Regions from separate parts of the Homo sapiens genome. Here regions 2 and 3 are each linked to region 1. The links come from fine-mapping of genetic effects on gene expression. Tissue or cell type: whole blood. Region 1 holds a variant in brackets; each other region holds the start of a gene. All regions are shown on one strand. Distances are between the middles of the regions.

Region 1 (8,106 bases):
TCTTGATAATGATTGGACCTGGGCAATGATTTCATAAGAGCTTATTGTGCTCATCTCCCTACTACTATGTATGCTTGAATATTTGAATAATGAAAATAAAACTTCTTTTTTTTTTTTCGAGATGGAGTCTCACTCTGTCCCCCAGGCTGGAGTGCAGTGGCGCGATCTCGGCTCACCGCAAGCTCCGCCTCTCGGGTTCACGCCATTCTCCTGCCTCAGCCTCCTGAGTAGCTGGGACTACAGGTGCCCGCCACCACACCCGGCTAATTTTTTTTTTTGTATTTTTAGTAGAGACGGGATTTCACTGTGTTAGCCAGGATGGATGGTCTCCATCTCCTGACCTCGTGACCTGCCCGCCTTGGCCTCCCAAAGTGCTGGGATTACAGGCGTGAGCCACCGCAACCGGTCGAAAATAAAACTTTTAAAATGAGTGTTTTAAGGGAAGCTCAGGCTGCCATCAGCACAGCAGGGAAGTTGGTGACATCAGAGAGTGTGTCCTGAGGTGGACGGCATTTGTTCCCAGGACAAGGCCTGTCCTGCTGCCCCTGAGTAGCCCACGTGTGGCCCAGTGCTTGGGACACAGTGCAACACCATCGTATAAAACCAGTCAATCAAGAAGAGCCAAGGGTAGCACCAACCACAGAAGGGCACAGCGTGGGGAGGACAGGGGAGGTGGAAGCTGAGGGTCGCACACGTGAGAAGAGAAGCAGAGGCGGAAATCACTGTGGTTCTGGTCTGCACTGGCTCAGCAGGTGGTGGGCTGAGGGCAGAAGGTGGCATGATGAGGCTGTGCTTCACAAAGGATGTCTTCAGCTGTGGGATGGTGGGTGAAGAGGGACAGGCACCACCCCAAGGGACCAGGGGGGATGACTGTGCAGATGCTGGGAAGACGCCGAGACCTGGCACCCAGGGATGCGCAGGACATGAGGGGACAGTGTGGACACTGAGAGCGAGTCTGCAGTGTGGGAAAAATTCATCCCGATGGAGCAGGAGACTCCGAAGGAAGGGCTGGTTCTGGGGAGGAGTGGCAAGGACCGGCATAGACGTTACAGACAGACTGCAGCTCAGATGGACAGGGGTAAGCTGGCGAGAGATCCTGGGGCAGAAGGGACAGCCTGGACTGGGTACACTGTCCTCTTCACAAAGAGGAGCTCCTTGAAGCTGTAATCCAAAGGCTGTCTTGAGGAGACCACCAAGATTCAGAACTCACTACAGTCCCCACCACACCCCCATCCAACATTCACTACGGCCATTCGTCCACACCACTCCCATGTCCCTGGGATTCTGTTAGATTTCTCCCTTTTACCTCAGACTAGGGGGCACACCCCGACGATGCAACTCGGAGAGCCTGCTGCATTCACATCTTCCCCAGGCTTACATGTTAGATGGTAAACACGGCCAGTGAAATGTACTTGTTATGCAGCTTTTCAGTTAGGGGACGCTTCCTGAACATCTACATAGGCTATAGATTTAATCTGCATTATTTATTTAAACCTCAAAGCGAATGTATGATGAGAAAACTGAAGTTCAGAGAAGTTAATAACCCAGCCAAGGCCACACAGCTAAGCTAGAGCCCAGCTCAGGTCATCTGTCTCCGCCGTCTGCACTCGCTTCTCTGCTTCATGACAGAGCTGAGGAAAAAAAATGCAGCTGGAAGGAAAATAAATCTCAACCAGGTGCTGGAAGCAGACATTTGCCACCTGGCCTGGAGAGGTTTGCTGAAAGGATGCCCTAATTTCCTATCCTTTTGGCTGGAAAAAAAGCCAATAATAGGTATTTTAGGAGGAAAGTGTGGGAGAGGTGGGACAAAAGCAAAAGGGAGATGCACCACATGTGCACTGCCAACGGCCAGTACTGTGAAAAAACCGATTTCCTGAAGTGACGCAGTCATTGTTGGAGTCCGGTGCAAAAGGCCTGCATCCCTCCTGCCTCAGGCTGGCTCAGCGACATGCTCAGCCTGGCAGTGGGACTGATTTTGACTTAGAGGTGTGATGATACTAAACAGTTTTTTCAACACTGTTTTAAAGATCAAAGGATTTCCGTTAAAGATCAAAGCATGACAGGTATTTTTGAGTTGAGTACTCACTCAGAATGCATTCGGGAGTTTGTGTTGTTTCATTTTTTTAATACGACTGGTTTTCAAAGGAGCACTCGAGAGCACTGCCTGGAGTGGAGGAACAATCTTTGGTTTGTCTGAAATCTTGCTGCTGTGGTTCAGGCTCTGTTCCTATTTTTCGGCAGAGAGAGCTCCATTAGGATCCCAGGCCACCTGTCCAAGGCTGTGACCAGGGCCCTGCCTGTTTAGAGGCAGCCTGGATGAAATGGAAGCCGCAGAGCAAGAGTCAGGTTTCCCTCCTGAATTCCCTGGCGGTGATGGGCCGTCCAGATTACCCCGGGTCACAGGGCCACGCACAGATGTTCACAGAACACAAAACCGAAGGGAGACGAGGCGACGGCTCGCCAGAAGGTTTAAGACCAGCCACACAGCTACCTTCACCAAAGTCACAGCGTAAGCTACACCCAGGGAAAGCACTTAAGGGGAAGATAATCCACTGCCTTCCTGGCAAAGGCAGGGGCAGCAACCGGGTCTGTTTACCCTTGACAATGGAGAATATCAGCCCTGGGCTCACCCCACCCCACCCCACTCCCACCAACTGGGATGAACAGAGTGAAAGGTGATCTAGAAATAGAACAAGCTCTCCTTGTTTATTCAGGCTATGCATAACTCAAAAACTAGATGTTTTCAACAAATATATTCCCCCTTTTTTTTCTTGCTTGCCATTGTACCTAAAATATTACAGGGCAACCACTTATCTCATTCCAAAAAAAATTAAGGAACAAAAGTCTGTCATCTTACACGCCGTCATCGGTTTATATTGTATCTGTAAAAGTGAGTGGCCACAGATAGATTTTCTTTCACCAGGAAAGAAATTTGCATGGCTTACACTTCAGGAATAAAGAAAGGAAAGATATTACCAAGACATTAAAAAACAAAGAATTTTCTTCCATTTAGCTCCTCATTGTTTAGACACTCAAAATAACGACATGCAGGGTAGACTATTTCATGTGCGGTGCGGGGGGGTTCCTGCTTCCCCAGGTAGGGATTACTGGGAAGACAGTTTGGGAAAAGGTATTCTGATCAACCCCAACAGTCACACGTGTCCAGTGTCTATAAGGCGCACAAACACCACATCGTGAAAAACACTCCTTCAAGAAGAACAAACTAAAATCAAGACAAACATTTTATTCACTCCCTAAAGCACTTTCTTCACTGTGCTTTCTGGATATCTAATTCCCTGATCTCACCCTTTCTCATTATCTGCTTCTTCATGAGAACAGGCTTATTAAAGTATCAATTCCACAGGTTGATTTTGGAAGACAAGATCTACTAATGAGAAAGTGCAGAAGCATGTTCATGAAAATTTAACTTTATCAAAATAGTATAAAAGTATGAGGCTTAGACAAGTTCAATAAAATGTTGGATGAAAATATTTTATTGAATGAATAAAAGGCACAGAGAGAAACTTAGAATCCCTGGCTACCATTTCAAAATTGTAATTGTAAATTTGGTACAAGAGGGTTTTCTAAAAAGATTAATGCATACAGATTTTTTTTGTTCTACTTCCTGTGGTTACATTCCTAAGAAAAACTGCTAGAATATTTGCCAGTGACTTGGACCTGGGTTTTATGACCTGGCAGAATGTCCTTTAAGGGGCCCTAAGCAATGCTGTCAGGACTGAGCTGAGTAAGCCCCTGGGGTTAGGGATGCTGAGGACCCCTGGGGGTGCCCTGGCTTGGCTGGCACAGGAAGGCAGGAGAGGGAGTGGGTTTCAGGGAGGATGGGCTCCTGGCCTGTGCATCTTTGCAAGGGTAAGATTTGCTAATCTTACATCACAGATGCCTCTCCATGTGTGAGTCTATGTTAGCTGTACTCTCAAGCAATGAGATAAACTGCCCCCTCCCTGGAGGCCCGGTGACTGTCAGCATCTCTCTGTGGCCACTTTGTGCACATCCGACACACGAGCTGACACACAGGCACCAGTGTGTCAGCTCATCTGGCACTGAAGTCACCGTCCTTTCCTCACTACCACCTCACTAGACTTTGGTATTGCCAGTCAGTCAGCCAGCAAATATTGACAGAGTTTCCTGTGCGGTTAACAGCTAGAGAGATACACAAATCAGCTGAAA[G/T]ATCAGATGAGGGTAGGAAAGAAGGAACAGGGAGGGGTGAGAAGAGACAAAAACACTCAGGACCCCTCAAAGAGGTGGGGGTCTATAAGATCTTTAGAAGGGAGGACAGAGCTGAAGACAGACTTCTTAGTCTCTACCCTCCACCCCTCAGGAATCTAAGCAGGTGTGAAAGAAGAAAACAAAGGTTGTAAGAGAACAATTGTGAGGCAGCTTAGGAGGCCAAGCAGGACAGCATAGACTCTGTGCAGAGAGCAGCACGCCACCATTATCCAGTTTGCAGATGGACCACCCAGAAAATCTGTGAGTAATTAGGAGTGAGAAAAACAAATGGGAGGGGGTCACTGAGGAGGATGAGCGGCAGAGCCCCCAAACTGTGTTCTGGCTAGGAATTCCAAAGTGAAGCAAGATGCTGGGACTAGAAGAAAAGGAAAATGGTGCAACCAAACGGGAGTATGCAGGCCCACCCGTGCATGTGTGCGCGCACACGTGCACAGAAACACACACACACACCCCATCATATGAACTACAAAGTGAAATTTACAAGGAACCAGAAAATAAGACTTTCAAATGTAGACGGTAGGAAACCGCATTTAAGCTCTTATTTTCTGATATCCATTTGAACATTTAAAAATGAATTTTGAACAGGATAAGTGAATTTTAAAAATAACATTCATTTATCAACAACAAGCAAAAATGGGCTCACACACTCTTTCAAGGCTGACAGCCCACGACTTCCTTCAATACAATTCAAGGCCGACAGCTCATGACTCTCCTGCCAAAGTGAAGATGAGCAGCTGACCTTTTACACACCTGAGATGGGTCAGGCAATATGCTGCGTTGTACATATTTCACGAACCTTAATCCCCCAAAGAAAATATTAGCCTTCTTCTATGACAGATGAAGAGACAATCTGATCATATGAAATATCCTGCACAAGGCCTCACCGGTAGGTAGCAAAGCCAGAATTCAAACGCAGGTTCTGTATCTCTGCAAAATGCATGTGGCCCTCCAAACTGGGTGGTTGGTCCCTGCACACAGTGTTGGACCTGAGCCTTGGCATGTGCCACTCCCTCTGCCCAAATCAGACTCTCAGCAGTTCTGTCCATTCAAGACCCTCCCATCCTCAAAAGCCTGTTGTTCATCCATCTCCAACATGAAGCCTTTCTTGATTGCTCAAGCCAGATGACCCCTCCCCACATCAGAACAAACACTCTAAAGCACATTCTCACACCACATTATATGTGATGTCGTCCTGTAAAATGTTTGAGAGGAGTTTGAGAGTTTTGCTCTGAAATTCTCATTTTACTTAGAAATTACTTATGCCCCCTCAGCAATCATTGTGTATACTTGATATATAAGGGAGCCTGTAAGTTGTTTCTAAGTATAATAAACTTATTGTCCTTACTAAACTTAACGGTTAAGAGTGATATGCATTTTATAGGGTTTTAAACATTTATTAATTTCATTATGCAATGTTTCCTGCTCCCTAATTTTTGGAGCTTATGAATATGTTTTTTTTCAGGTCTCAAAGAGCACGGTAGGTCCCTGAAACTCTAACAGGTCCTGAGCCTTATGCCTCAGCTGTCTGATGGATAGAACAGCCCTGAACAAGCCTCAACCACGCGTAGTGGTTATATGTACATCTGCGGTAAAATCAGCCCCCATCCCCATGTATTCACAAACTTAAGCTTATGGAAGACAGTGCTTTTTGTCTTGTTGACTGATGATTTTTTACAGTGGCTAGCATAGCTGCTATAAAATGAATGCTTAATAAACTTACTAAAAAATAACTCATAAATAAATACAAAACCACAACTTCAACTCTATGCCATCATCCCTTTTCTAAAATCTGTTTGAAATTGTATTTTGAAAGCCTCTCAAAATGTTTGCATTCTCTTTCTTTAACAAAAAAATTATTTTGTCTTCATTGCTTTAAAAGATGGTACAAATAAACACAATATAAAGCAAAACACAAAGTGGGGACCTCTATAAGTATTTGATTTCTTGATGTTTGTTTCATTAGCAGTTGGTTACTGATTTCCTTCTAAGCATTTATAGGAGAGCTGTACTCAGAATATTATAGATATTCCATGTCCTTAATAGAGCAATGGCTTTCTAGTACCCTGCAAATTGTTCTCAGGCCCAAAGAAATTTCCCTTGATGGTACATAGATTTTAACAGAGTGCACTCTAACAACATTTTAACATCTTGTGTGATGAAACAAAAACTGCACACAGACCCAGCTGTTCCTTGTGGGGAAGGGCAGGCTCATGTTCAGGAGGAATTAGGAGAGCAAGCGGCAGTGTCTGTTCCAGGAGTTCACACGATTCCTTTCACTCCCAGCAGAAAATGTTAGCATTAAAAACTACTCCCCCATTTAGATATGCTGAAGTGGAATGTAACAGGTTTACATGAATAACAACATGCATTATTTCACATGCAAACCTTCACACTGTAGATACTCATCCTTGGGTACAGTACTTGGGTTTGAAATTCAAAGGCCTAGCTTTAACTCCTCTGTGGTAATACTGCTAACTCTGGACTCTTCCACCTTAAGATAATACTGCCACAACATCGATTTTCTGCACATGAGTTGTTTTGCTCACTTCTAAACCCAATAAAACCCCCAGTCTTACCTGGAGACTTCCAGAGATTTAGGTTTCATGTAGTCACTGAGAGTGTGATTTAAATCTGAGAATAACCAAAATTCTTAAGCCTGAGCATACTGTGCTCCCATCGAAAACCAAGATGAGAAAAAGAAATACAGGAAGGAATAAGGGAAAAGGGCCGGGAGCACCTGTGTTCTGTGCGGACTGGGACGGAGTTCCCCACCTCTTTCCATTGCTATCCCGCAGCACCGCTTTTCCCAGGACTCGAGACTTGGTTTCCAGCTCCTGCACCTCCTCCAGCAATGTCTTTTTGCAGGTGTGCTTGGCTCTGTGTTATGAGGAAAAGACAAAACGAACATGGCATAGAGACTTGACACAGCTGGGAAAGACAGGCCGCTCCCCTCTCAGGCCACAGCCAAATGCCCTTTGGTGGAGGCCGAGGCTCGGGAAGTGGTGGAGCTTTCACAGTCTCCATGCATGACCCAGGTTCCATCTCCACAGCCCGGAAGTATCCTGAGTGCTGCAGACCAGACCCGGATCATGCATGTCAAGAGTCACCCCCACCCCGCAAAGAACCGGAAGTCGGCCGAGCAGCCCAGTCACTCAAAGACTGGGTGGGGTTCACGAAGACCCAGGGTCTACCTCTACAGCATTTCTTGTCAGGAACTGAAAACCAAGAAGACACTTTAAACCCTCACCTTAGTGAACAGGCACTGGTTCCCTGGTCCAAGGACCCCAACTGCAGTCAGAGAGCCCAGGGGTTAGCAAGTTTCCTCCCTCCCTCTTTAGCGTGAAAAGAGCCACTGCCACAGCAGCCACGGGGCTTAGGATGCTAGAGTGCATGGTCTGGATGCAAAACCAGAGGCTTGAAACGTGGAGTCAACACAAATCCAGAGTGCAGGTTTCCCATCTTCCTCTGGCAACAACTCACCATTGGAGTCCACACACGCAGGCCTCAGTGACATTAATACAACTTATGAAATAACCCGCAGCCTGGACAGCTCACTCTTCTTGAATGGTAGGAAGAGTTCCCTCTACCCTTTTACTGAGGACACTAAGATGAATACCTCACAATGCTCAAATAATTGGCCAATCTCAGAGTCTTTATAAAATGAAAACTAAACTAAGCTAAAAGTGAGCTACCAGTTGGAAACAATCTAGCTACTAGTTGGAAACAGTCTAGGTGAAAAGACATTTAACCAGATATAGGTTATATAAGAGAAAAAAACTGCAAAGGGAAAAGGCTCAAAAATTAGTAACACACCAGACTGAAAAGCTTTGCATCGGTTTAATTTAAATATAAATACAT
Region 2 (8,106 bases), 80 kb before region 1:
TCCCATCAATGACAGCATTCAAGGGATCTGATTTCCCCACAACCTTACCAACATTATTTCCCATTATCATTATCATTACTATTATTGTCAACCTAGTGAAAGTCAAGTGGTATCTTGTGCTTTTGATTTGCATTTCTCTAACGTCTAATGATGTTGAAGGTGTTTTCATGTGCTTGTTGGCCTTTTGTAGATCTTATTTGGAGAAATGTTTATTCAAGCCAGTTTTTTGGTTGGGTTGTCTTTTTGTTCTGGGTTGTAAGAGTTCTCTTATATTCTGGATATTAGACTCTTTTCGTATATATGATTTGCAAGTCTTCGCACATTTTGCTTTTGTTTATGCCATTCTTTTAGATAGGAAGGCATTAGTGAAATAAGCCCTCCGTGAAACTCCATATCTCCAAAATGGAAATATATCCATAGTAAACATCAAAATCAAAATTAAAGGGGGTTCAGTAAAACAATGGAGTAAGGAGGGGGGATGAGAGAGAACTATGTCAATAGTTTATAATGACAAATGAGAAGAAATATAATTGAAAATATGGAAATTACTTTTCTGGAAGTCAGTATGTCAATTACAATAAAAATAAGGAGGGTGAAAAATTAAAACTTTTAAAGCAAGAACAATTTTTTTTCATAAATTTATGAACATTTTTGAACATAAGTTTAGGTAAACAGAAGACAAAATTAAAATAAATGTAAATTAATATATTTGTTTGGGTTTTCACAAAAACACTCTAACTTAAAAGAACTTTTGGTAAACCAAATGCCAATTTTCAGTACTATTTCTATTTATGAGAGAAGAGGAGAAAAAAAAATGAATGAACCCAGTGAAAGCCATTCTCCCTAAACAGACTGCTGATGGATGTGCAGATGGTAAGAACCTTCTGCTCTTGCTGAAACTTGCAGAAAAACACTGTAGATCTTGCAGCTTTTAGAACTGCCAGCCAAATGAAATATTATTACCTCCATCTGATTTGTATCAACTCCAGTTAGTAAAGTTGTAAGTAATCATTTCTTTAGTTATATGACTTGCTATTTGTACTAGTGAAGATATGTCAGAAGTTTGCTTTTAAATCAATTGGATTTTATTCATATATATATTTATATATATATGCACAGGCACATACTGAAAGGCAAAATAACTTGAAAATATACTTTTTCAGTTAGTGACTATAGAATTCAACTTTTTTAAAAAGAGGGCTGCACTCTTTCATATGTTTTTCAATATATTTTGGCAGACTGCCTAACATTTCATTTTGATTATCATAAATTATGATTACTACTACCTATATGTTGTAATTACTAGTTATAGCTTCTCAGAAGAAACGAGTGAAATAGTTTTGGTTGTCTGTTAAGACCAATGAGGGAATTTCTTTTTATTTCCTATGGAAGGAACAAGCCTATTTTAATATCTCCCAGTGGCACCTCCCATGCAGAACCTCACTAAATACTTGGCAAGTTATTTTATAAAATTTCAGTTCAACATTCCAGATACACAAAGAAACGATAATACAAGAGAGACAAAGTGACATAAAGGACCTTTCAGCATTGAAGACAGTCAACCACTACGTAAAGTAACTATGAAAGGGCCTCTCCTTAACTTTTAAGGAAGAAAAGAAACACAGTAATTAAAAAAAAAAAAAAAGACGAATTTGCTCAGAGCGCCATACTTCTAAGTTCACCAATTATAGATTAAATTGTAGACTATTTGGCAAAAACATTGTGTTTTAAAGGTGGCACTATCCAGTCACCAAATCAATTCCAATATGAAATGTTAAACAATTTTTTTTCTTCATAAATAAACTCTGACAAATTGTGGATGTTTTGGTGAGTAGGATAAGTGGATCCTGGAAGGAGGTTATAGGCATAGGTACTGTCTGAAATAATACAATTCTAAATAGAACAATAAGTACAATTCTCTCGCATTAATTGTTTTTCCAAATGGCAAAATTGAAAGTATTCACCCTCTGAACACTACCCAAATCAACTCGTGCTGCCATAGGAGCATCTCATGATCTGTACAGGACTCCCAGTTAATCAATCCTGGGCTTTCTGTAGTGGCGGCTGTGGTGATCAGCAGTGCGGTGAGTGGGGTTTGGAGTCAGGAAGAATTGGGTGCAGTCCAGGCAAACCGACGCTCTCTATCTTTAGGGATTGAGCAAGTATCCTCACCAGTAAAATGAGGATAGTAATACTGTCTTATTTATAGGGCTGATGTGAGGATTAAATGAAACCATGCACATGAAATTCTTAGCGTGGTGCCTAGCCCATAGTAAGCTCTCAATAAATGTTGGCTAATGGTGTCTTCTAAGAAAATGACTCATTCTGAAAAACTCAATCTTCCCTTGGCTTCTTCTGGTCTCTTTTTAAGTGTTACTCCTTTGATGATTTTTCTGACCTCCTTCCCCACCCTAACCTAGATTATGTGCTTAAATTGATGCTGTTCTCATTGTGGGTAAGAGCTTTGATCATACTTGCATTCTCTTTGCTTATTCAGTTCTTTGTCTTTTTGTCTGATTTCTGTATTTTACCCTGGAGACTTTAGGCCCTATTTGAAGGAAATGGCCATGCTGTCTGGCTTCTTGATGAGTCCCAGTACCCAGCACAGAGCACAGTACACTGTAAGTGCATGGCGTGTATTTCTTGAATGAATGATTTCTTGACATTGAAATTTTTTTTAGCTTACTAGCTTAAGACATTTGGTGAATAGTGCATTTAAAGTATATAATTTTGTGTAGCTTAAAACGATACACAACCAAAAAACTGCAAGAAAACAAAGTGCAATGCTTGGAGAGAGGTTTAGTGAAAAGAATAAGGTGTGTGTTGGGGAGCAGGGACATAGGGTAGGGTTTTTTTTCTTGGATTTGACATTGTTGGGGCAAGTGGAAGAATAATCAACAATGTCTGAATCTTCACATTAACCAGGCATACACAAGCATCCAATGGCTGCTTGAACCTGAGTGTCTTTGCTGTGAATAAAACTGCCTGTGTTCTGAAGTCATGGACTTGAAAGGGACCTTAGTGATCGTCACATCCTATGCTCCACTTTATAGATGAAGAAACTGAGACCAGAAAAACGCAGTGATTCCCTGCTAGTAGGGCTGGGTCTAGAATTCAGGTCTGCTGACTCCCAGACGGTGTGGGAAGGGGCATTCGTTCCTTTAAAAATAAGCACTGCTGCTTTAATAACATCAGCACCTGTTGTTCCAGCTTCTGCAAGAGAGAAGCTATTAATTTCTCCTTCATCAAAGCTGAATTTCTGGTCTGTCTGAACCTTGTTTTCTTCCTGACTGCAGCTGTCTAAACCACTAAGGCCACATGTTGGACGGAGGCACTTTCCTGCTGGAATCCGATAAATCACCACACCCAAATATAGAAAGAAAAAGGGACACAGATCATCCACACCGTGGCCGAATGTGTGACATCTTTGCTGAACTCTCTCCGTTCCACCTTGTGGTGGAGGCCTCCAGTCCACCAAACACAGCCCTAGGCGTGTGAACCCTGCCACAAACATCGGTGCTCTTCCTGCACAGGGCCTGGGACCAACCGTGGCCAGGACATCAGCTGCTGGAAGCCGAGAGAGTTCATCTGAGTGGCGATTTTATGATCTGCAGAGTGGAAAGTAATCATAATCCCTTGAGAAGTTTGCAGAATCGAACCGAATGTTGAATGCCAAAGATCTTCACAAAGCAAGTTGAGTTTCTTCCGTTATTATTGTTATTTGTGTTAGCGAGGCCTGGATTGCTTAGGTTGGGTTTCCTCCCGCGCCTATTCCAGCAGGCAGACCCCGCCCTTGGCCACACCTTTCTCCTTGCCCGGGGTAGGAAAGTGAGGGGCTGCCCGGCGCCCGCGGGCGTCCCTGAGGTCGGGGGTGGGGGGGAGCCGCGCAGCGCGCATGCGCGCCGGGGAGCCGCCGGCCTCTATAAGAGCGCGGCTCAGCGCGGCAGCGAGCGGAGTCGGAGCTGGTCTGGCGCCGGGCGGGGCGAGGCGAGGCTGTGGGCGGCTGCTGCGCTCGGCTTCTCCCGTAGCCCGGAGGAAAGAAACTTCCGTGGGAGGCTTCCATCGGTGCGCACACCTCCCGAGGGCGAGGCAGCGACCGGGAGAGGGAGAGCCGGCCGGAGGCTGCCGGGCTCCTGTGGGACCGCGCTGCAGCCGGGGAGGCGGAGAAGGGGAACCGGGGCGAGCCGCCCGCCTGGATCCGCGCCCAGCAGCAGCCGCGGCCGCCGCCAGCTGGGCAGGCTCCCGGGACTGCGGCTGGGGGCGCGCAGGACCCTCGCCTGCGTCCTGGACGTTCCCGGGGTCAGGAGCGCTCCCTCGGCGACGTGCTGGGAAGATTGGCCGTCGGCCCCGCCGAGTGGAGCGTCGGGGCTGCACCCCCGTGGGCTGCCCGGGCGGCCCGGCCGGAGCCATGCGGACCAAGTTCGGGGCAGAGGAGGCTGAGCGCGGCCGGCTGCGTCACTTGCTGCCCAGAGCCTTGCGTGCACTGCCCGCCTTCGCCCCTTCTACCCGCCCGAGGAGGGAATAAAGGAGGGGAGACGGGCCCTGATTCGCGCGCGGGACCCTGAGGCTTAAACCCTGCGCAGAGCCCTGGCTCCAGGTCCGCGGCGGCGCGCCCAGCGGTCATTCGGCTCGAGTGAGCATCCCTTCGGGGATGCTCAGGGAGGGTCCGGTTGCCAGTGAAACCTCCAGAGGCTTCCGGACGACAGCCCCGGGGGCCTTCTGACTGCATCCCGAGATTTCCATCAGCGAGTGCAACTCATAAGGCAGTCCCTAAGGGGACCGGGCCACCGGCTGAGGACGGGGATGGCTTAGGAGCTCCTGGACCTAGGGCCCGGCGTCGTCGCCTCCTGGGCGTCGCGGCAGAGGGGAGTGGCCCGCGCGGAAAGCGCCGCGGGACAGTCAGTGACGAGGCCCGGGGGTCGCCGGGGCCACGACTTCTCGGAGACCGTCCTGCGCTCTCTGGAGACGCGCTGTCCGCGCCCAGGGTGGTGCCATGTGGGGCGCTCGCCGCTCGTCCGTCTCCTCATCCTGGAACGCCGCTTCGCTCCTGCAGCTGCTGCTGGCTGCGCTGCTGGCGGCGGGGGCGAGGGCCAGCGGCGAGTACTGCCACGGCTGGCTGGACGCGCAGGGCGTCTGGCGCATCGGCTTCCAGTGTCCCGAGCGCTTCGACGGCGGCGACGCCACCATCTGCTGCGGCAGCTGCGCGTTGCGCTACTGCTGCTCCAGCGCCGAGGCGCGCCTGGACCAGGGCGGCTGCGACAATGACCGCCAGCAGGGCGCTGGCGAGCCTGGCCGGGCGGACAAAGACGGCCCCGACGGCTCGGCAGGTAGGGCGGCCTGCGCCCAGCGCGAAAGGGAGGACGGTTGGCGTTGCCTGGACGTCAGGGACCTGGGAGTTTGAAGGGGGGAAATTCAGGAAAGGGCCTAGGACCAGGAGGCGGAGTCTGCCTTCTGGCTTATTATTTGGTCGGTGTGGGTCCCTAATTCACCCTCACGGGCCTCAGTTTCTCCATCTGTCAGCCAAAGGGTGGCTTAGAGTTAATTTTCCGAACAAAATCACACTCCTAAGGCAGTGTGGGCCACAGACAGCCCCCATATTCCTTCTGACCAGGGTCCTCCGGGCCCCTCTGGCGTCTCCTGTCTCCATAGGGCTTCATGTCTTAGGGGTACCCAAGGAGACGGCGAGGGTGCGCCCCCACCCGTGAGGGCCTGGCAGCGGTGCTCCCCTGAAGGCTCCCCGAAAGGAAGGCAGCTCCTCAGGGCTTTCCCGGGGCTGCTGCCCCGTGCCAGACGCCGCGGATTCCCATCTTCTCCACGCGGCGGCCCCTCTCCCCTGCAGCGGCCCGCCTGTGGGGCTTCTGGACTGTTTTCCTTACCACGTCAGACTTAGTAGGTGTAACATCGGAGCAGTGCCCAGCCTTGCTCTTTGTGGCTTTGATTTTTTTTTTCTTTCAAATTGCCAAAGCCAGAGTTGGAAAGTAAACCCGTGAAAGAATTTGGTAGGTTGCACTTCACTCTTCAGAAACCTTCCGGAATGCCTCCCTGGGGTGTCTACACCAGTCACTCCGTGTGTGTGTGTGTGTGTGTGTGTGTGTGTGTGTGTGTTATTTATTTCGGGGGAGGGGAGGTGTAGAGGTAAAATGGCAAACGTGTCCCCGAGGGGGCGGCTCCTCCTCTTTGTGGGCCCGTTGTGTTTACCTGGGAGGCTTTTCGCTAGCATCCTGAGCCTGGGTTCGGGCTGCTTGAGCTTTGGCACAGCGTAGTTTGTGTTTATAGAGCTGCCTCCCAGGACCTCGTGAGAGACAGCTCTTTTCAGTGCCGTTCCCTTTCGCAGTCAAGCATTTTATTAGCATGCTACTCCTATTGTTCTGCTGTCTTGAATCTGAAGAGAGCGTAATTCCAGAACCAGCGCAGTCTTAAAACGCAAGCTCAGTCTCGCAGACTGTGTGGCCATGGAAGAAAGCCCAGAGAAGGGAGCCAGACCCCGAACTGCTACAGTGAGATGTCTGCTAGATTGGGCTCATTAATGGTCTCCAAAAAGTTGGGATGGCTTTGGATTAGTCGGGACTTCTCAGGACGAGACTTCTCATGACGCCCTGTGTTGTGCATGGATGCCTTCTTCATGCTACTTTTAAACGTTTTTTTCCTAAAAATTGTATTTCTTTCACTTTTCTTCTGCAGTGAAGGGCAACATGCCTAATTAAGCCTGCCGGGGGGCTTATAGTAGCGTTACATTCCTTATCCCTGTGTAGTTATTTACATTTCCAATTAAAAATCCTGGAAAGAGAACACTTATTTCTCCCCAAAACTCATTATGTGGACTGAGGCTGGTTTCAGCTAGTTTCTGCTATGATTGGGGTACATTTTTTTTCCTGCTTTACTACTATTAATTTATTTTTTGATAACATATTTAGGGCTGGTGTCTTAATTTAGAGAATGAAATATTTATAACACGCCAAGGAAAAAGCCTGCATCCACTTCTCCAGTGATCCGTAGTTAGCCTGAAGTGATAGTGTAATTAGGACAGTTCTACTGCTGGGCGCCAGCTGTGCTGCAGACACTGTAGCAAATGTTTCTACCTGCTAAAGGGGCGCTATATATAGAAATTGCTCTGTTCAGCATTGAAACTCCAGGAAATATTCCACAGTCAGCCTTTGGTTAAATACCTATAAAGTATTGTTTTACTTACAGGGCATTATTTCTCCATAATTCCACCTGGTATTATACTTTAAAAACACTGACTCCAGCAATACCAGAACAGTGAAAAGGAGCATAATTAGAAAGCCCGGCTGCTCTAATGGATGATGAAAGGGTATTCATAGAGCTGACCTCAAAGGCGTGGTCTCCTTCCTAAAATGCTGCCCCATCCGACTCTGGGCTGGCATTATGCTTTGCCAAGACCAGTAAGACCCAATCCACCCCTGTGCTTATGTATTTCCCAAAAATATAGCCAGGAGGTTGGGGCAAGAACACATCAGAAAATGCAGGCTCTTGGTAACATAGGGTAGAATTCCACAAAAGTGGCTCAGAGGCATTCTGCAGGCACCTCCCATCTGATTCTGTCCCTGTCAACCTGCGTCTATTTTCTAAAGCCTTGTAGTGCCCTCTCTATGGCTCCTAAAAGATTTTTTTAAGAAACTAATTTTATGTATTTATTTATTTATTTGAGATGGAATCTCAATCTGTTGCCCAGGCTGGAGTACAGTGGCACAATCTCGGCTTACTGCAACTTCTGCCTCCTGGGTTCAAGCGATTCTCCTGCCTCAGCCTCCAGAGTAGCTGGGATTATAGGTGCGCGTCACCACACTCAGCTAAATTTTGTGGTTTTAGTAGAGACAGGGTCTCACCATGTTGGCCAGGCTGGTCTTGAAGTCCTGAGCTCAGGTGATCCACCCACCTTGGCCTCCCAAAGTGCTTGGATTACAGGCGTGAGCCACCGTGCCCCGCCAGAAACTAATTTTAAAATGGAGTTTGCTAGTGGTTTTATCAAAAGGTTTTTATTTTTACTTTTTATGGTTTTCTATTTTAAAATCAGCTTCCCGGGTGAAGTGTGATGGCCGTTGCTTTATGCTCTGAGGGCTTTCCCTGTGTACTCTTGCCTTCTTG
Region 3 (8,106 bases), 600 kb after region 1:
CTAGGCAGGTGGGCAATGATAAGAACCACACTGGACTTGCTAATTAGCTTGTCCTGACAGAAATTAAGCAGCAAGTAAGGAATTTCTCCGAATTTTTTTTTCATTTGTAAAGTGAAGGGATCAGACCATCTCTGAGATATCCTCCAGCTATTACATTCTCACATTAGCACGGCTTGTATTTTCAGCTGCCCTGATTCTCCTCCTTGAAACTTGGGGCAGGTTGTTCTGGCAAAAACAGAAAACACACATTAAAAAATACCTTTGATGACCAGCAGAGGGCAGGGTGAGTTGGGTGTGGAATTTAGAGGAGGGCTCCAGGGGCAGTTTCTAGAAGGTTTGTAGTCCTGGTCCAAACGGTGGCTCACGCCTGTAATCCCAGCACTTAGGGAGGTCGAGGTGGGTGGATCACGAGGTTAAGAGATCGAGACAATCCTGGCCAACATGGTGAAACCCCGTATCTACTAAAAATACAAAAATTAGCTGAGTGTGGTGGTGGGAGCCTATAATCCCAGCTACTTGGGAGGCTGAGGCAGCAGAATTGCTTGAACCCGGGAGGCGGAGGTTGCAGTGAGCCGAGATCACACCACTGCACTCCAGCCTGACGACAGGCTCAAAATAAAAAAAAAAAAAGAATATTTGTAGTCCTCTGGGTTCTGCACTTGGTCTGTGCACTTCCTGCCTGCCCGTTCTTTCACTAAGTCCAGAAATGCGGTAAGATAGGGAAGAGCTTCTGCCATAGACAGCACTGATGCTGTCGTCCATAGAAAACAACTTCCTTCCTTTCTGTCCCCACTCCTCCCCTCCCACAACCCCCAACACCCATATTCACATGTACACCCTTAATTTCCTTACTCATCTGGGTCAAGGTGAGAGAAGAGAGTTGAGAGCTCTTCCCACGTGCACTGTAGTCACTGCCTAGACCATAAGCTCTGTGAGACACACTGCTGTGTTCCCTGCTCTGTCTCTAGCACCTAGAACCATGCCGGGCACATAGAAGGCACTGATATATATTTGTCACTGACTTTGTTTCCATTCTAAGGGGCTCCACCCTGAGCAGACTGTAAGCACTATACGGGCAAGAGGATCCCCATGGTCACAAATCTTTGGATTTTCATCATTTGGTAAAATGAGACACACTGGCACCAAGTAGATATTTGGGGAAAGCTAAAACTGATCAAAGTGCAATTGAATATGCAGAACAAGATAAGAGTCAAAGATGGCTCAGACAAGAAAATATTCCAGAATTATTTTTAAAAATAGTATACAGCTCAGCATATACTCTTGAAGCTGACTGTGATCTGCAATCCTTTCATCATTAGTTTATTTTTTAATAATGAGAAGTAGCAGACTTCACTAAAAATCACACATCTTTGTTTAGTATTTTTATGGGAGTACACGATTGTCAGGCCCTCTGCCCCTGTTTCCATCAGTGTCCCCAGGAGCCCACACTATGCAGATCCTCTTTCTTCTCCATACATTATGCAAATACCCTAAACAGGCCCCATCTCAGAGCCTCCACTCTGTCTCCTGGAACTTTCAGCCTATCATCAGCAAGATCCCTCACAACCCGACCCCTCTGACTATTCCTGAAACTTCTTGCCTTAACTGCTCTGCCAGGAGGACCCTGCTTCTCACGGTTACTCTCAGATCACTGCCTTCCCCCCTGCTCCCTAAAAGCTTCCTGCGTTGATGTTCATGCCGTCAGACTGTAGAACAGTCTCAAAACAAAGCGACCTCTCTTGAACTCACATTTTCCTCCAGCTACCACTCGATCTGCTTCTCCCCCTGCCTTTTCTGCAATATTCACTCAAAAGAGTTTTCCGGACTTGCTGTTTCCAGTTCCTGTCCTGTTACTCTTACACCTGCTCTATTAGGCGTTCTTCCCCACAATGATATGTTAACAGCTCTTTTCAAGATCACCAGTGACCTCCACTTACATGACAGTTCTCCAGCCTCATCTTTATTGAGCTCAGCAGCACTGGGCACAGGTACACCCCACCCCTTCCTGAACATCTCCACACTGAGTTTCAGAGCACTCCCTCCGGGTTTCCGGGGACCTCCCTGGCCATCCTCTCAGGCCCCTTCTGTTGACCCTCATCTCCCTAACCTCAAAATGTTAGAGTGCCCAGGACTCTATCCAAGGACCCCTCTTTTCTAAGTCACATCTGTACACATTGACAGCTGATCACATAATTCTTAGGGGCCCGTGTAAAATGAAAAGGTGGGCCCCTTGTTCAAAAATTAAGACTTTCAAGACAGCAACACTGGGCAGAACATCCAAGCAAGTGCTGACTCTTGTAAGAGCCAGACTCTGAGCAGCTGCAGGGCATACACTCTTGGAGCCGGTCCTGCCGACGACTCTTGAATCTCTATGTCTGGCCTTGCACACTCCCCGGAGCCCCAGACTCATAAATCCAGCTCTCTACTAATCATCTCCTCTTGGATCTATGGTAGGCATTTCAGACCAAATTCTTCACACCCTCCCTTACCGCAAAAGAGAACCCTGGTCCTCCGCAGTTTCCCCATCTCAGCAAGGGGTGCATTCTTCCGGTGTCTCAGACCAAAACCCTTGGGGGCATCTTTGATTCTTTTCTTGTACTGAAGCCCCACATCCAAATCATAAGCAAATGCCTTTGGCCCCACCTGCAAAGGTACAGAGGGTGTCCCCAGGTCTCCTCAGGCTGCCTCCACCTTGGGAAATTCTCACACCTGTATGACTGCGCCCTCCCACTGTCTCTCTGCCACAGCTCTTCCCTGCTATTTAGTCTTGACCCTGCACCCCGTGACCCCTTCAGGCTGGGATTCTCCTCAAAATGAATGTGAAAGTGTCCTGACTTTACCCAAGTTTAACAAACATTGGCTTAAATTACCTGATAAGCTTGCTTCCCTCTCACGTTACTCAACTACAGAAATACAAAAGTCGCTTATTTTTATGTGCCTATTTTCTCAAAACAAATAAAAAAGCACGAAGACAAGTGACCCCAGCTCCAAACTGTACACCCTCTACCTTCCTCATGTCAAAGATCTACCTGCAAACTTGCCGCAGTCCTGAAACGGTAAGAAATCATTTTTGGGGCTCCTCTTTACGTCTGCATTAACTAATGGTCTAGGTAACCCTATCAAGTGTCATAGCCACATAACATCCAGCTCCACGACATCATAGTTTCTAAATGTGTTCTATAATCATAGAACGCGGGCCTCTAACAGTGTGAGTGGTCGGGTATGGTACATGCGTGTTTGGCTTTAGGTTTCGAGTTCCAACACCCAGGCGCCTGCAGGCAGGGTATGTGTACGCGTGCGTGTGTACGTGTGTGTGTACCTGTGTGTGTGTGTGCGCGCGCGTGTGCGTGTGTGTGTTCGTCTCCAGATGGTTGTATGCACGGATGGTTATGAGCCAGTACGTCGCCGCTGTGAGCGCGCGAGGACCCGGGGCTCCAAGTGGTGAGAATCACTCGAGGGACCCTTCGGATGCCTTTTTCCCCCTCTGCTTTTGAGCTCTGCAGCACAGCGGTGCCGGCCGCCGGCAGGGAAGGCTGCATCTTCTCTGCGCCGCCAAACCGTGCCCACCATCGCGGTGACTGCCGCCTAGGTCGCATCCCTGAGCCGCATCCGCGCGTAGGGGCGCACGGGCACGCGCACAGGGAGGCCGCACACACACACACACATCTGTACAGGGACGAGCCGGGGGTCTCTGACGCCCGCCGCTCACCTCGCCCCGGCCTGGAGCCTTTTGGCCCCGCAGGTGCAGCGACGCCCAGCCCCCGTGCGGCCAGCGCGCCGCGTCGGCGGATCCTGCAGCCCAGAGAGCCCAGGGAGCCCAGGGAGGGGAGCGGGGCGCGGGCGGGGCAGTGTCGCATAACCGCAGGCGCGCCCCGCGCCGCCCCCGCCCCGGGCCCACCCTCCCTCGCCGCGCCCCTCCCAGCTCACCCACGGACGAGCGGATCCTCGACCTCCGCGGCAGGGACATCTTAAGAGCTTTGTCCAGGCCTGCGCCGTTCAGCATCTCGCCCGTGTCGGGGGCTCGGCGGCCCCGGGCGAGAGACGGAGGCTACGCGCAGGGCTGGGCGCAGGGGCCGCCGCCCGAGGACCATGGGTGGGCCAGCGCCTCGCCGGGCTGCTAGCTGGCGGGGACCGCCGGCGCCTGTGCCGGGCCGCGCCCGAGGCTGCGCCGTCCGTGCCGCAGCGGCCAATGCGGCAGCATCCGCGAACGCCACCGCGGCGGGCCCCGCTGGCCCGGGCTGCGGCGTGGGGGCGGGGGACCGGCCCTGAGCGGAGCCCCGCGGGAGGAGGAGCGGACGGGAGGCTGGGAGGGATCCGCAATATTACGCAGGACCGGGGCTTTTAGGTGTCGGGGAAGGCGATGGGGAGGGCTTGGTGGGGTGGGAGATTGGGCCTGTACTTTCGGGGGCTCTTCCAGGAGAGGGGTGCACCTGGGGGACTCGGAGTCTCTGCCTGTCTGCTACCTATTTACCTGCCTGTCACTTGTCCTGTGCAAGTGGAGGCGCTGTGATTCCCCAGGACTCATCCAGTCCCTTTCTTTTCGCAGTTTCTGTTCTTCCGTGCCCAGCCTGGTGGGATCTGTGTAGGGACTTCGTGGAAGGGTTATTTCCAAGGTGTCTGATGTGTGGCTTGGCACTCAGAGAAGTCGGGGGTCTCCAGCCCCCCACTCTCCACAACCTGCCTGACATTCTAACTACGCATATTAAAGCTGCAGGTAGCCCTAGGGAACCTTAACAGCAACCTTCTCAACCCCCGCACGCACACACACACACACACACACCCATCGACACACACACACACACACACAGACCCATCGACACACACACACACACACCCATCGACACACACACACACACACCTTCTTTCATAAAACAAAACCATCGAGAGGTAAGATGACTTGTCCAAGGTCACTTGATCTATTTTTTGTTTTTTCTTATCGCGTAATGTTTAGACTGTGCTTGGTCTTTCTGGGCACAATCCCATGAAGATAAGAAGCTATCTTTATTGTGCCTGATGACATTCTGACCTCGGAGTAAAAACGGAACAAAACAAAAATAAAACTGTTCAGGTGAAAGTCTGACCTTGCTTTTACTGATGCGAGCATTACATTTCTTTTAACCTAAATTAACATTAGGGACTGACAAGGAGTAGTACAGAGTTCAGCAAAAAGAATCTGTGCTAGCAAAGACAGCAGTGCGGCCTGAGCTCCTCCTGCCTGGCCTCTGCATCTGATTTTATTTTCTTTTACTTTTTTTTTTTCTTTGACAGAGTTTTGCTCTTGTTGCCCAGGCTGGAGTGCAATGGCGCTATCTCGGCCCACTGCAACCTCCGTCGCCCGGGTTCAAGTGATTCTTGTGTCTCAGCCTCCCGAGTAGCTGGGATTACAGGCGCCCACCACCACGCCCAGCTAATTTTTGTATTTTTAGTAGAGACGGGGTTTCACTAAGTTGGCCAAGCTGGTCTCGAACTCCTGACCTCAGGCGATCCACCTGCCTCGGCCTCCCAAAGTGCTGGGATTACAAGCGTGAGCCACCACCCCCGGCCTCTGCTTCTAATTTTCTTAAGAACAAACATCCAGGCCGCGCGTGGTGGCTCACGCCTGTAATCCCAGCACTTTGGGAGGCAAAGGCGGTCAGATCATGAGGTCAGGAGATGGAGACCATCCTGGCTACCGCGGTGAAACCCCGTCTCTACTAAAAATACAAAAAAAAAATCGCCGGGTGTGGTGGCAGGTGCCTGTAGTCCCAGCTACTCGGGAGGCTGAGGCAGGAGAATCGCTTGAACCCAGGAGGTGGAGGTTGCAGTGAGCGGAAATCATGTCACTGCACTCCAGCCTGGGTGCCAGAGTAAGACTCCACCAAAAACAAAACAAGACAAAACAAAAAACAACATCCAAAGGGACAGGCAACTTACACTGAAAACTGCAGGCTGGCAAGAATCTACACTAAATGTAGCTTCAGGTAGGATTCTTTACCTGTCTCTTCTGGGCCCTCAAAAAATTTTTCTGATAAGAAATGAATCTTTATCAGGAAGATGAATCAAAATAAAATTTTCTAAATTGTTGAGCTAAGCTTCAGAGTGGGAGAGGTTTTCTCAGTGGATCTTCATTGCTGCTGAGGATAAATCTTAAAGCTGGGGCTAATCCTAGGACTGGATTTGTCAAAAACTTGTCACTATGCTTCAGTAAATCTTCTGTCTATGATAACACCTTGAGGACCTAACCAGAATTGAAAGGAACTTAAAAGGAAAATGTGGTTTTTTTCAATCCCCAAACTTCAAGATAAATAGAAAACATTTTGGGTTTTTTTGCTCTGACTTAGGTGGGAATAGAAAGAGTAGATAAAGGTTATTTTTAATTTTTAAGAAGCAGAGTATGTTATATATAGAATATTTGCCTTGATCACTGAAGAGTGACCAAATGTCCCACCCTGACTTTGTGCAGCCCCATCATGAAACAGAGTTGTTGCTGCTCTTTCTATGTTTATCTTCCAATAACCAAACTGCCCTGACAGCTTTGTAGGTGTGTGAAATATACCTCAGTTGGTGCACCTTGAAGATCACAGCATAGACTGCAAGGAGCAGTAGGTGAATATTTCACAGCAACTTGTGTTGTCTCTTTGATGTCTTGGTTAATTCCCCTGATCTGACTGCCTCTTGGAATGTTGGGGAGATCAGTAGGTTGGCATTGGCCAGAGTCAGACCTAAATCCCATCTCTGAGGTCTTCAAGGGAAATATATGCACAAAGGACAAAAGCTAGCAAATGGACAGTATTTATTATTATGCTTAGAATCCAGTGCCGATGTGGATCACCCTGTGACCCAGGCTTGGCTTGGAGACATCCTTTCACCCTTGCCAGAGGCAGCCTAGGTTAGAACCAAAGGAGATAAAGAAGCCTGTGAGGAGAAACAGCAAACGCAAAAGGCACCGCAACCAGGACAGTCAGGGAAATGTGCTCTGTCTGTGAAAGCAAGAACTCCTCAACAAAGAGAGTTTGCCTCAATTCTTAGAGCCACGACCCTACGCGTTCACAAGACAGGTAGAAAGGCAGCCTGCAGCCCCCAGTAGGAGCCACACCAAGTCCCTAGCACTGTGGGTCGATGAGTGTCATTGAACTTAACTAAGCCAGAGCAGCCCTTTCCTCCTGGAGGAGGAAGTGAAGGGAAAGGGAGAATTCTTTTTCTTTCCCTGAAAGGCAGCTGTCGTCATCCTCTCATTATTCTGTGTGCCCCTCTCCTTATGCAATAAGTTGAGCCAAGACAGACTGATCTCCCAGGAGAGGATCCGACCCTCCAGTGCTGTGACGGCACAGAGGCTGCCTCTCCCTTTCCCGGTGATTCCCAAGGAAGGAGAGGCCAGATCGCTTCTCTTGGCAGCCCACTCCAGTGTTCAAGAACTAGTGTTTTGAAGCAGTTTGTCCTCTGAACATCTTAAATTTCTACTATTTTAACTTAAGCCTATCCTTCCTTTTTAGTCTTCATGGTCCTAGAAAACAGTCAGTTGGCATCCTTCTCAAGAAGTTCTTTTATACAAACGAAGACTTCAAGCCATCTCTTAAGCCCTTCTTTTCCTCAAACTAAAAAAGCCCCATTTCCTTTTTAAAATGCTTATGTGTGCGTCTTTACCTTTTATATCTGTATACATATATGTATATATGTGTAAACATTTTATCACTTTTTTATTTGAGACAGAGTCTCACCCTTTTGCCCAGGATGGAGTATACTGGTGTGAACATGGCTAACTGAAGCCTCAACCTCCTAGGCTCAAGCAATTCTCCTCCATTAGCCTCCCAAATAGCTGGGACCACAGGCACGTGCCACCACACCCAGCTACTTTTTGTATTTTTTGTAGAGACAGGATTTCACCATGTTGCCCAGGCTGGTCTCAAATTCCTGAACTCAAACCATCCTCCTGCCTCACCTTCCCCAAGTGCTGGGATTACAGACATGAGCCACCGCATCTGTCTACATAAACACTTTAAAAAGAAAATGGCATATAAGTAGCATGTTAAAAATTATACGTAAGCATGTACCAATCATCCTTGTACCTGTTCTCCTGTTTAGGAAACAAAGCAGTATAGGCCTGTTGAAAGCCATTTGTGTACTCAC

Evidence for each region. PIP is the estimated chance that this variant, and not a neighbour inherited with it, causes the effect.
Region 2: SHISA2 starts here. The variant in region 1 is fine-mapped to the expression of SHISA2 in whole blood (TOPMed, PIP above 0.99). The same link has a PIP of 0.9 or more in T cells and blood mononuclear cells.
Region 3: ATP8A2 starts here. The variant in region 1 is fine-mapped to the expression of ATP8A2 in whole blood (TOPMed, PIP above 0.99). The same link has a PIP of 0.9 or more in T cells and blood mononuclear cells.

The regions. Positions count from the first base shown.
Region 1 is chr13:25,967,594-25,975,699 of GRCh38, reverse strand. It overlaps ATP8A2 (ATPase phospholipid transporting 8A2), which reads right to left. Exons shown (of 37, transcript NM_016529.6): 35 at 7,021-7,125. LOC105370122 (a long non-coding RNA gene) reads left to right here. Exons shown (of 3, transcript XR_941764.3): 3 at 1-120. Among named protein-coding and RNA genes, the nearest start is that of SHISA2, 80 kb to the left of the region's middle. RefSeq lists enhancers at 209-747, 748-1,287. The variant G/T (reference allele first, on the strand shown) is at 4,189.
Region 2 is chr13:26,047,863-26,055,968 of GRCh38, reverse strand. SHISA2 (shisa family member 2) reads left to right here and starts at 3,953. Exons shown (of 2, transcript NM_001007538.2): 1 at 3,953-5,327. The coding sequence starts at 4,994. It overlaps LINC00415 (long intergenic non-protein coding RNA 415), which reads left to right. Exons shown (of 2, transcript NR_146971.1): 2 at 3,297-3,693.
Region 3 is chr13:25,368,110-25,376,215 of GRCh38, reverse strand. ATP8A2 (ATPase phospholipid transporting 8A2) reads right to left here and starts at 4,242. Exons shown (of 37, transcript NM_016529.6): 1 at 3,928-4,242. The coding sequence starts at 4,003.